Linked DNA regions of Homo sapiens. The protein of the gene in region 1 interacts with the protein of each later gene in a pairwise test. Each region holds a gene or a part of one and is shown on either strand. Other genes may lie near its edges. The genes, in order: FAM114A2 and GAD2.

What was found.
Region 2: the proteins of FAM114A2 (region 1) and GAD2 interact in binary tests that used the Homo sapiens proteins (3 or more experiments, as listed by UniProt).

The regions. Positions count from the first base shown.
Region 1 is NC_000005.10:154,028,860-154,032,671, forward strand, and holds part of FAM114A2 (protein FAM114A2), read right to left. Parts: intron 722-3,812; coding exon 630-721; intron 1-629.
Region 2 is NC_000010.11:26,215,228-26,219,626, forward strand, and holds the start of GAD2 (glutamate decarboxylase 2), read left to right. Parts: upstream 1-1,546; 5' UTR 1,547-1,582; coding exon 1,583-1,658; intron 1,659-2,382; coding exon 2,383-2,442; intron 2,443-2,614; coding exon 2,615-2,764; intron 2,765-3,815; coding exon 3,816-4,049; intron 4,050-4,399. UniProt on the Homo sapiens protein: Catalyzes the production of GABA.

The DNA.
Region 1 (3,812 bases):
AGCAGAAGACACAGAAAACTGGGAGAGGACACAAGATGGTGGGGAGATCTGATTACGGTAATACTGTTTCTTACTCTGGGTGTTTCACACTGAAAATTCAAACAACACTTGTTACATTCTTCTGTATGTATATTTCAATAAAAAGTTAAAATTTAAAAAAAACTAGCTATCTATCCTCATGTAGCAAAGATATTTAGCTTCCTAGATAATCCTCTTACAAATGTTTTTAATCATACATAGTTTTGCAAATATCTGTCATAAAGATCACATTTCCCCTTTGCCTAAAAGATGCAACTATGAGAAAAATATTTTTGTAAAGTAGACATTTTTTAGGGCCACCAAATTAAGAATTCCTAATCCATAAAATAATACGTATATTGCCTCTCTGTAACTCCTACTCCCTTATTTATTGCTACTCCTTTATTTCCTACTTTCTTCCTTATTGCTTTAATGAAAGTTTTCAAGTAGCATTCACTCCACCCATAAGACCAAAGTGACCGATCTTCAGTGGCTTGGACTCCTTTAAAAGTAATCAGTCCACATGGCTGTTCAAAGAAAAGAGAGAGAAAGATATGCAAACCCATTATAATAATGGAAAGGAACAGACCACCTTGCACTTTTTTACTTACTGTGCTCTGAACAGCAGTAGAGATGGTAGAGAATACACCAAATGCCCCAGCCACTGGGGAGGAGTTTTCATTCTCTTTGGCATTTGTCTCTCCTACAAGAGGGAGGGGATGTGTAAACATGAAGGGAAGGTCCCTTAACTCTCAGGCTTTATTAGCATCTATGTGAATTTTTTAAAACTAGACCCTGCTTACTACATACTAGGCCTTAGCCCTTTTTATCATTTTAAACCATTTGCTTATTTTAAAATGAAAGCTAAGATAGGCAGTTTTCATTTTCTTTTCATTTCGAAAATAAAATCCAGTTTTGTAAACAAACTGCTGATATATACAACAGCCTATATGTTGTATGATTCCAATTATATAATCTTCTGGACAAGGTCAAACTGTAAGGTCAGAAAACAGATCAGTAATTGCTAAGAACTGAGAGTAAGGAGAACAGTGACTACAAAAGGACGTGAGAGAACCTTTTTGGGGTAATAAAAATTTTCTTATGTCTCAATTATCAATACAGATATAGGAAACATTCTATATATCTGTATTGATCATTCTATATAGAATGTTTTCTATATCTGTATAATCACAGTGTACTATGATTACACAGTATAAACAGAAGTATATATACTGATCAAAACATGTAAAACTGTACACCTAAAAAGAATAAATTTTACTGTGTGTAAATTATAATTTGATAAACCTGATTTTTAAAAATCCAGTCTATTTTAAATTTTATCCTAGAAAATTATGATTAGTAGAAATCAAACAGACATACATTACAAAGATAGGTATGTTTCAAAACAAAAATCCATTAACTTAAAAATTTCACATAGGAGAACAACCATTATACCAAATAATTTCAGTATTATCAAATATTATAGAGAGGACTTCCACTTCTAGCATGATGGATTAACTGGTATTAGATATGACCTCCTGCCACAACAACTGAAAAACTGGACAATATATAAGAAGCAACTGTCTTCAGACATAGGACAATAGGCAGTACAAGACTTCGGTTCACACAAGAAGAACAACAAAGTAAACCTTACAATTGGCTTGGCTTTCTGTATAGAGGAGCTTTCCAGGCCATGACAGAGGGAGGAGAAACCCAAGTAGGGCATGGCAATCAGTTTGAGTGGAAGAAACGGAGACTGGAATCTGGGAATGCTGAAGCAATCGGAATTTGCAGGTCAGAAAACCGTAGAGGAGGAAGCTACATAGCTAAAAAGTTCTAAGAATCCGCATAGGCATGCCCTAAGACACCTTTAGGTGTTTTTGCTTAAATACTGCACTGCTGAGGCACTGGGAGGCTCCATAAGTCTGTACAAAGAACTACCATGGAGCTCTAAGCTAAGCAATCCCCAGAGCTCACGCTAGGCTGAGAGACATTTGACCTCCAACCACAAAAGCAGAGACTTTATATTAAACACCTGGGAATTAAGGTGGAGACTTCGGAAGAGTCAAGCCTTAGCAGCAGAGATAAACAGTACTTAGTTAGAGTAAAGGCCACTATAGACTCACCCTAAACAAGCTTTACAAAAAGTCTTGGCCAGACACAGCAGCTTATACCTGTAATCCCAGCACTTTGGGAGGCCGAGGCAAGAGGATCACTTGAGGTCAGGAGTTTGAGACCAGCCTGGCCAACACAGCAAAACCTCACCTCTATTAAAAGTACAAAAATTAGCCAGGCATGGTGGCCCATGCTTGCAATCCCAGCTATTTGGGAGGCTGAGGCAGGAGAAGAACTTGAACCCAAGAGGCAGAGGCTGCAGTGAGCTGAGATCGCACCACTGTACTTCAGCCTGGGCGACAGAGTGAGACTCCCTCTCCAAAAAAAAAAAAAAAAGCCTTAAAGCATCAATTTAAGTTGCAAATACCTTAACTGCCCGCCGACAAAAGGAAAGCAGAAGATAGCCCCCTTTAAAGGAAGAAAACAAAATCCCTAATAGATGATCAATGATTTCCATCAATGGCCTATGCTTATCTCAAAATTCTGAAAATATACATGTTGACTACAAGACACATCCTTGGCAGAGGAATTAACCTCCTTCCTCAGGAACTTTAGAAGATAGAAGGGGTTTAGTATCAAAAGGCAGTCCATTGTAATTTTGGAAAGTTCTCCCTGTTAAACTCTTTATTAAACTAAAACTTAACTCTATATAACTTCCACTGAGTGGTACTAGTTACTAGTTCTCCCCATAAACCATGAATAATAAACCTAATCCTCTTCTCCATGCTAGTCTTCAGAAAAAGACCAGGATATTCTCCCAATCTCCCTTCTCCAGATTACCAGATTCAATCTCTTATAAGACTTTCTCTTGTAAGACTTTAATTCTAGACATTTCACTATTGTGAAAGAAAATAAAACTCAGGACCCCAAATTTACTATGCCAAAGGGAACAGTTAAGCTGAAAGCTAAGTTACACAAAAACTGTCTTTCCTTTTGTTCCTAAGCAGAAAGGCCAGACAGAAGGCCAGATGTTTCCACAGGTAGCTACTCTACGTTTACTTTATTTCATGTAAACTGCCAATTTACTGAGCATAAGACAAATACATAATTGACTCTACCTCTGCTCTTTCCTTTTACACGTAAAATGTGGATTCAGTGAACACTGATCAAAGATTCAAAAGAAGGCAACCACTTGCCCCTCTTATCTACCCTCCCCTTTCTTTACTTCCTCTTTCCCCTAGAGCCCACTCTTCTTCCTTTAAATATTGAAGTCACCAGACCCTCTTCAAAAAAAGTATGGAAGGTAGATTGTTTCTGTGGTTTGTGTTCCTTTTTCCCAGGTGCATCCTCAAACTTAGCAAAATAAACCTCTAACTTGATTGAGACCTGTCTCAGACACTTTTTGATTCACACTATCTAGCTGACTCTTTTCTGGATTCACCCAGTTTTTCAAAGCCCTTCTTAAAACATGGCCCTCTGTGGTAGATATCTTTCAGTGTCATGAAGATGCTGCTGTTAACATATTCAAAGCCACTTCTAACCCCCTTTTTCCTTGGCTGCTAAACCCATATCCTGATCTTGAGGTTTCTGATAATGCCCAAAACGCACTCTCTCAGCATCTCTTGCTGCTACATCAAGAACATGAGATCCTGTTCTAGGCAATGGCATTGGAGAAGAAACATGCTTGGGACTCCTGGAAAACATTTCCCCTCTTTAAAGAAAGAGGGATGCATGAGGAA
Region 2 (4,399 bases), on another chromosome or scaffold:
CCGACCTCAGCCCTTTCCTCTCTCTCCCTCCCTCCGTCTCCCCCAGAGCCCCGGAGCTCCGAGGTGCACTTGAAGTTCATCTCCACTGCCAGGAGAACGCAGCGCAAACTGTCAAAGGGCTCCCAATCCTTAGGGCGTCCTCCCTGTCTGCAATAGCTTTTTGTAGAAAGGAAATCATCAGAACGATTCTGACTTTCTCCTCCTTTCTTTATTAGAAAAAGAGAAACCGCCTCCTAATACGCCTCAGAGAGAACCAATCTCGCGCTTCCGGGTCACCCGCTACCGCGAAGATTCTCTGGGGGCGAGGGGGGGCATTGGTTTGAAGCCCCTTAAAACGAGGGCCCTGCAGGCGATGCCTTCTTTCCTACTCGGATTTGTAAAGCCGAGATTGCTTAGTTGGAAACCCTGTTCTCCCCTCCCAGGCGCACACAGATCCCCCTTACACGCAAGCAGCGGGCGCTTCCACGCCTCCGCGGGCCAAGGTCACCAAATGCCCTGATTCCATCCCCCACCCGCCATCAATCCTGCCGACTCTGGCCGCTCTGCCTCATTCTCTTCCAAGAAGTTTCCATTCGTTTTATTTTTTTTTCCCCAGCCCGAGGTCCTCAGTAGACTCCAGCGTGGATTTTAATTGCCTCAATCAGCAGTCATTCTCCCCAGCCGTCACTCAGAGCCTGGACGGTGGGTCCCGCGATCTAGCCCTTGGCTACGCAGGAACGGTGCGCCCCCGGGTACGGCGCGGTTCAGCAGGCAGGCGTCAGGTTCTACCAAGGCGCTGAAATGAGCCCATCAGCGGGTAGGAGCCCTTCCCCCGCCGTCCCCTCCCCAGGCTCGTGAACGGCGCCTGATGCCCGCCCGGGGCGCGAGCTCTCGAGGTCGCAGTGACCTCAGCACCTGCTTGGAGGAAAACGGCGCGGGAACCCCGCTTCCTTCCCCTCAGCTGGAGCCAGACCTCAAACAAAACCCCAATCGATGCACACAGAAAACTCCTCTGGGCCACGCTTCCCGCCTCGCCGAGGTCTCCCCAGTCTGCCCCTCGCTGACGCTGGCGCGCAGCGGCTGTGGCAGCACCCGGGACAGCGGCCGCCCGCACTTCCCGCCTCTGGCTCGCCCGAGGACGCGCTGGCACGCCTCCCACCCCCTCACTCTGACTCCAGCTGGCGTGCATGGTCTGCCTCGCATCCTCACGACTCAGCTCCCTCCCTCTCTCGTGTTTTTTTCCTCCGCCGCCCCCTCATTCATCCCCACTGGGCTCCCTTTCCCTCAAATGCTCTGGGGCTCTCCGCGCTTTCCTGAGTCCGGGCTCCGAGGACCCTTAGGTAGTCCCGGTCTCTTTTAAAGCTCCCCGGCTTCCAAAGGGTTGCCACGTCCCTAAACCCTGTCTCCAGCTCGCATACACACACGCACAGACACGCACGTTTTCTGTTCCTGCGTGACACCCGCCCTCGCCGCTCGGCCCCGCCGGTCCCCGCGCGGTGCCCTCCTCCCGCCACACGGGCACGCACGCGCGCGCAGGGCCAAGCCCGAGGCAGCTCGCCCGCAGCTCGCACTCGCAGGCGACCTGCTCCAGTCTCCAAAGCCGATGGCATCTCCGGGCTCTGGCTTTTGGTCTTTCGGGTCGGAAGATGGCTCTGGGGATTCCGAGAATCCCGGCACAGGTAGGAAGGAGAACGGGGGCCTGCGGCGGGCGAGTTTTGCGGTGGTCTGGGGTTTGCGGAACTACGGAGAAGACGAAGGAGGTTTTTCCACCTGCAACAGGAAACTTCTTCGGGCGCTTCTCCCTGCTTTTGGGCTAAGTCCTTGACGGCCCAAGAGCTCAAGACCTCTACAGCCTCTTGTACCCTGGGAAGACGCCCAAATAGTCTCAGGCCCGTTCCACAGAAGGTTGGAAGAGCCCCCCAAAGACCGCGGTGTCTCGGGGACATGGAATTCCGTGGTCCTGGGGCGCTGCTAAGATCCGGGTGTCTGGACCCTGGGGTGGGACGGAGTGACCGTGAAGATAGAAAAAAAAAATGGGAAAGGTGAGAGATTTCTTTATCTAGAAAGACAGTCTGCGAAAAAATGGATAGCTTCAGTGTTTAGGAAAACTCGTCCAAGGTAGGCAGGGAGAGGAATTTGCCTGAGCCGATTGGCACCTGGAAGGGCAGCGGTGTGGGCTTCTCCTCGGGAAACAGATAAAGGAAATGAGGGCTGGCCCGGGCCGCCAGCCTCCCGCTTGCCTTCTGCACCTGCCGGCCTCACCGAGTCCTGAGCGGCCCCCAGGAGGAAGGCGGCCCCTCCTAGGACCCCGGACTGATTGATTTTCACATAGAACGAAATTTCACACGTCCGTCTGTTGTTCTCTTTCTGCCTCGCTGTCTGCCTGCCTATTCTTCCTTGCAGCGCGAGCCTGGTGCCAAGTGGCTCAGAAGTTCACGGGCGGCATCGGAAACAAACTGTGCGGTGAGTGCCCAGGGACCGGGGCGGCCAAGGTCGGCCCGCGGGGTCCAAGCAGTCTTCTCACCTCCGCATCCCAGTCAGCGGAGTCGGGGTTTCCTGGCTGCGGGTAGGCGGGAGCGAGGGAGCCGGGCCCGGCGGAGGATTGACGAGGCCCGCGTTCGGTGTCCTTACCCAGCCCTGCTCTACGGAGACGCCGAGAAGCCGGCGGAGAGCGGCGGGAGCCAACCCCCGCGGGCCGCCGCCCGGAAGGCCGCCTGCGCCTGCGACCAGAAGCCCTGCAGCTGCTCCAAAGTGGATGTCAACTACGCGTTTCTCCATGCAACAGGTAAAGACTCAGCGGGGAGCCCCGGGGCGCCCCTGCCCCTCTCTCTGCCCCGCCCACCGCGGCCGGTGCGGGTCCGGCGCTGAGAGCCGGACAGGGGCGTCGAGGTGGCAGCGGAGGCGGGACCTGCCAGAATCTTCAGATAAAAGCGAGAAATGCGGGACCTGCCCGCTGGGTCCAAGCCCCCGAACCTGGCCTCGGAGCTCCAAGAGGGCTCTGAGGCCGTGGCGCTCTTCCCCCAGCGCGGCCCTTGGGATGGCGGGTGGCCGACGATCCAGGCGCTCGTGCGCTCACTGAATCGATGACGGCTGGCTTCCCTAGGCCGCTGGGGCCTCGGGTGGGACTCAGTTTCCAAATACCGTGCCCGAGAATTCAGAATTGCATTTTTTTTAGGTCTTTAGATCACGAGAGTGATTTGTAGCTGCAATTGCACAAGAGAACGATTCCATTCACATGAAACCCGCGCGCCGAGTTTTACCCCCGTGCACTTACACACCGTCTCCCAAATGTACGCGCGCACACACACATGCAGACACACATGCATACGCTCTCTCTCTCTCTCTCACACACACACACACACACACACACACACACACACACTGACTTTAGAAACAGCGGGCCTTCCTATCAGACCAGAGATCCTAATGCACCTGTTCCACTTTGGTTTGCCCGAAGGCATTCGAGACAAACACTTCTGACGTGAAATATTTATGTAAACATGTAAGATGGTTTACTGAGAAACACGTTTAAGACGAACTCCTGTGAACTAGATAAACGGAGGTACACGCTCTTCAAAAAAAGAAGGCAAACAATATAAGTTATGAATTGAAATGCAGTAATTAATTTGGGGAAGAGAAGAAATCATAATTTATCTCATTCATTCCCTTCACCTTTGAAAAATGTCTCCCTTTTAAAGAAAAATGTTCTGCCTTTCCAAAAGCTTTATCTAACATGAAATCTCTCAATTCAAAGAAATGTTATTGCCTCATCAAGATCTTGCCTTGAATATTTTCAAAGTAAAATTAAAATGTGGCATTTTAATTTCATTCTTTAGACCTGCTGCCGGCGTGTGATGGAGAAAGGCCCACTTTGGCGTTTCTGCAAGATGTTATGAACATTTTACTTCAGTATGTGGTGAAAAGTTTCGATAGATCAACCAAAGTGATTGATTTCCATTATCCTAATGAGCTTCTCCAAGAATATAATTGGGAATTGGCAGACCAACCACAAAATTTGGAGGAAATTTTGATGCATTGCCAAACAACTCTAAAATATGCAATTAAAACAGGTATTGTCTCATCGAAAATAATAAAGCTCTTTTTTCGTTTACAATTTTTATTTTATTTTTTTCTATAAAATGTTTTGTTTGATGGAGTTACTGATATTTTCAAAATTGCAAAGTTATTTTCATCATGTAAAAAATAGTCATTATTAGAATGATTCTAATCCAAAGCACCTTCCACTGCTATTGTTCATGCTTCTGAAGTTGATAATGTCAGAAACATGATTTAAGTGTAAATCATCAGATTTTACGTTGCATGTATTTGGACACGGAGGTTATACCACTGGTATAGAAGCAAATATTCATCAGCAGAGACCAGCAGAAAGAACTCAAAGTGGAGAAAGAGAATATGGAAA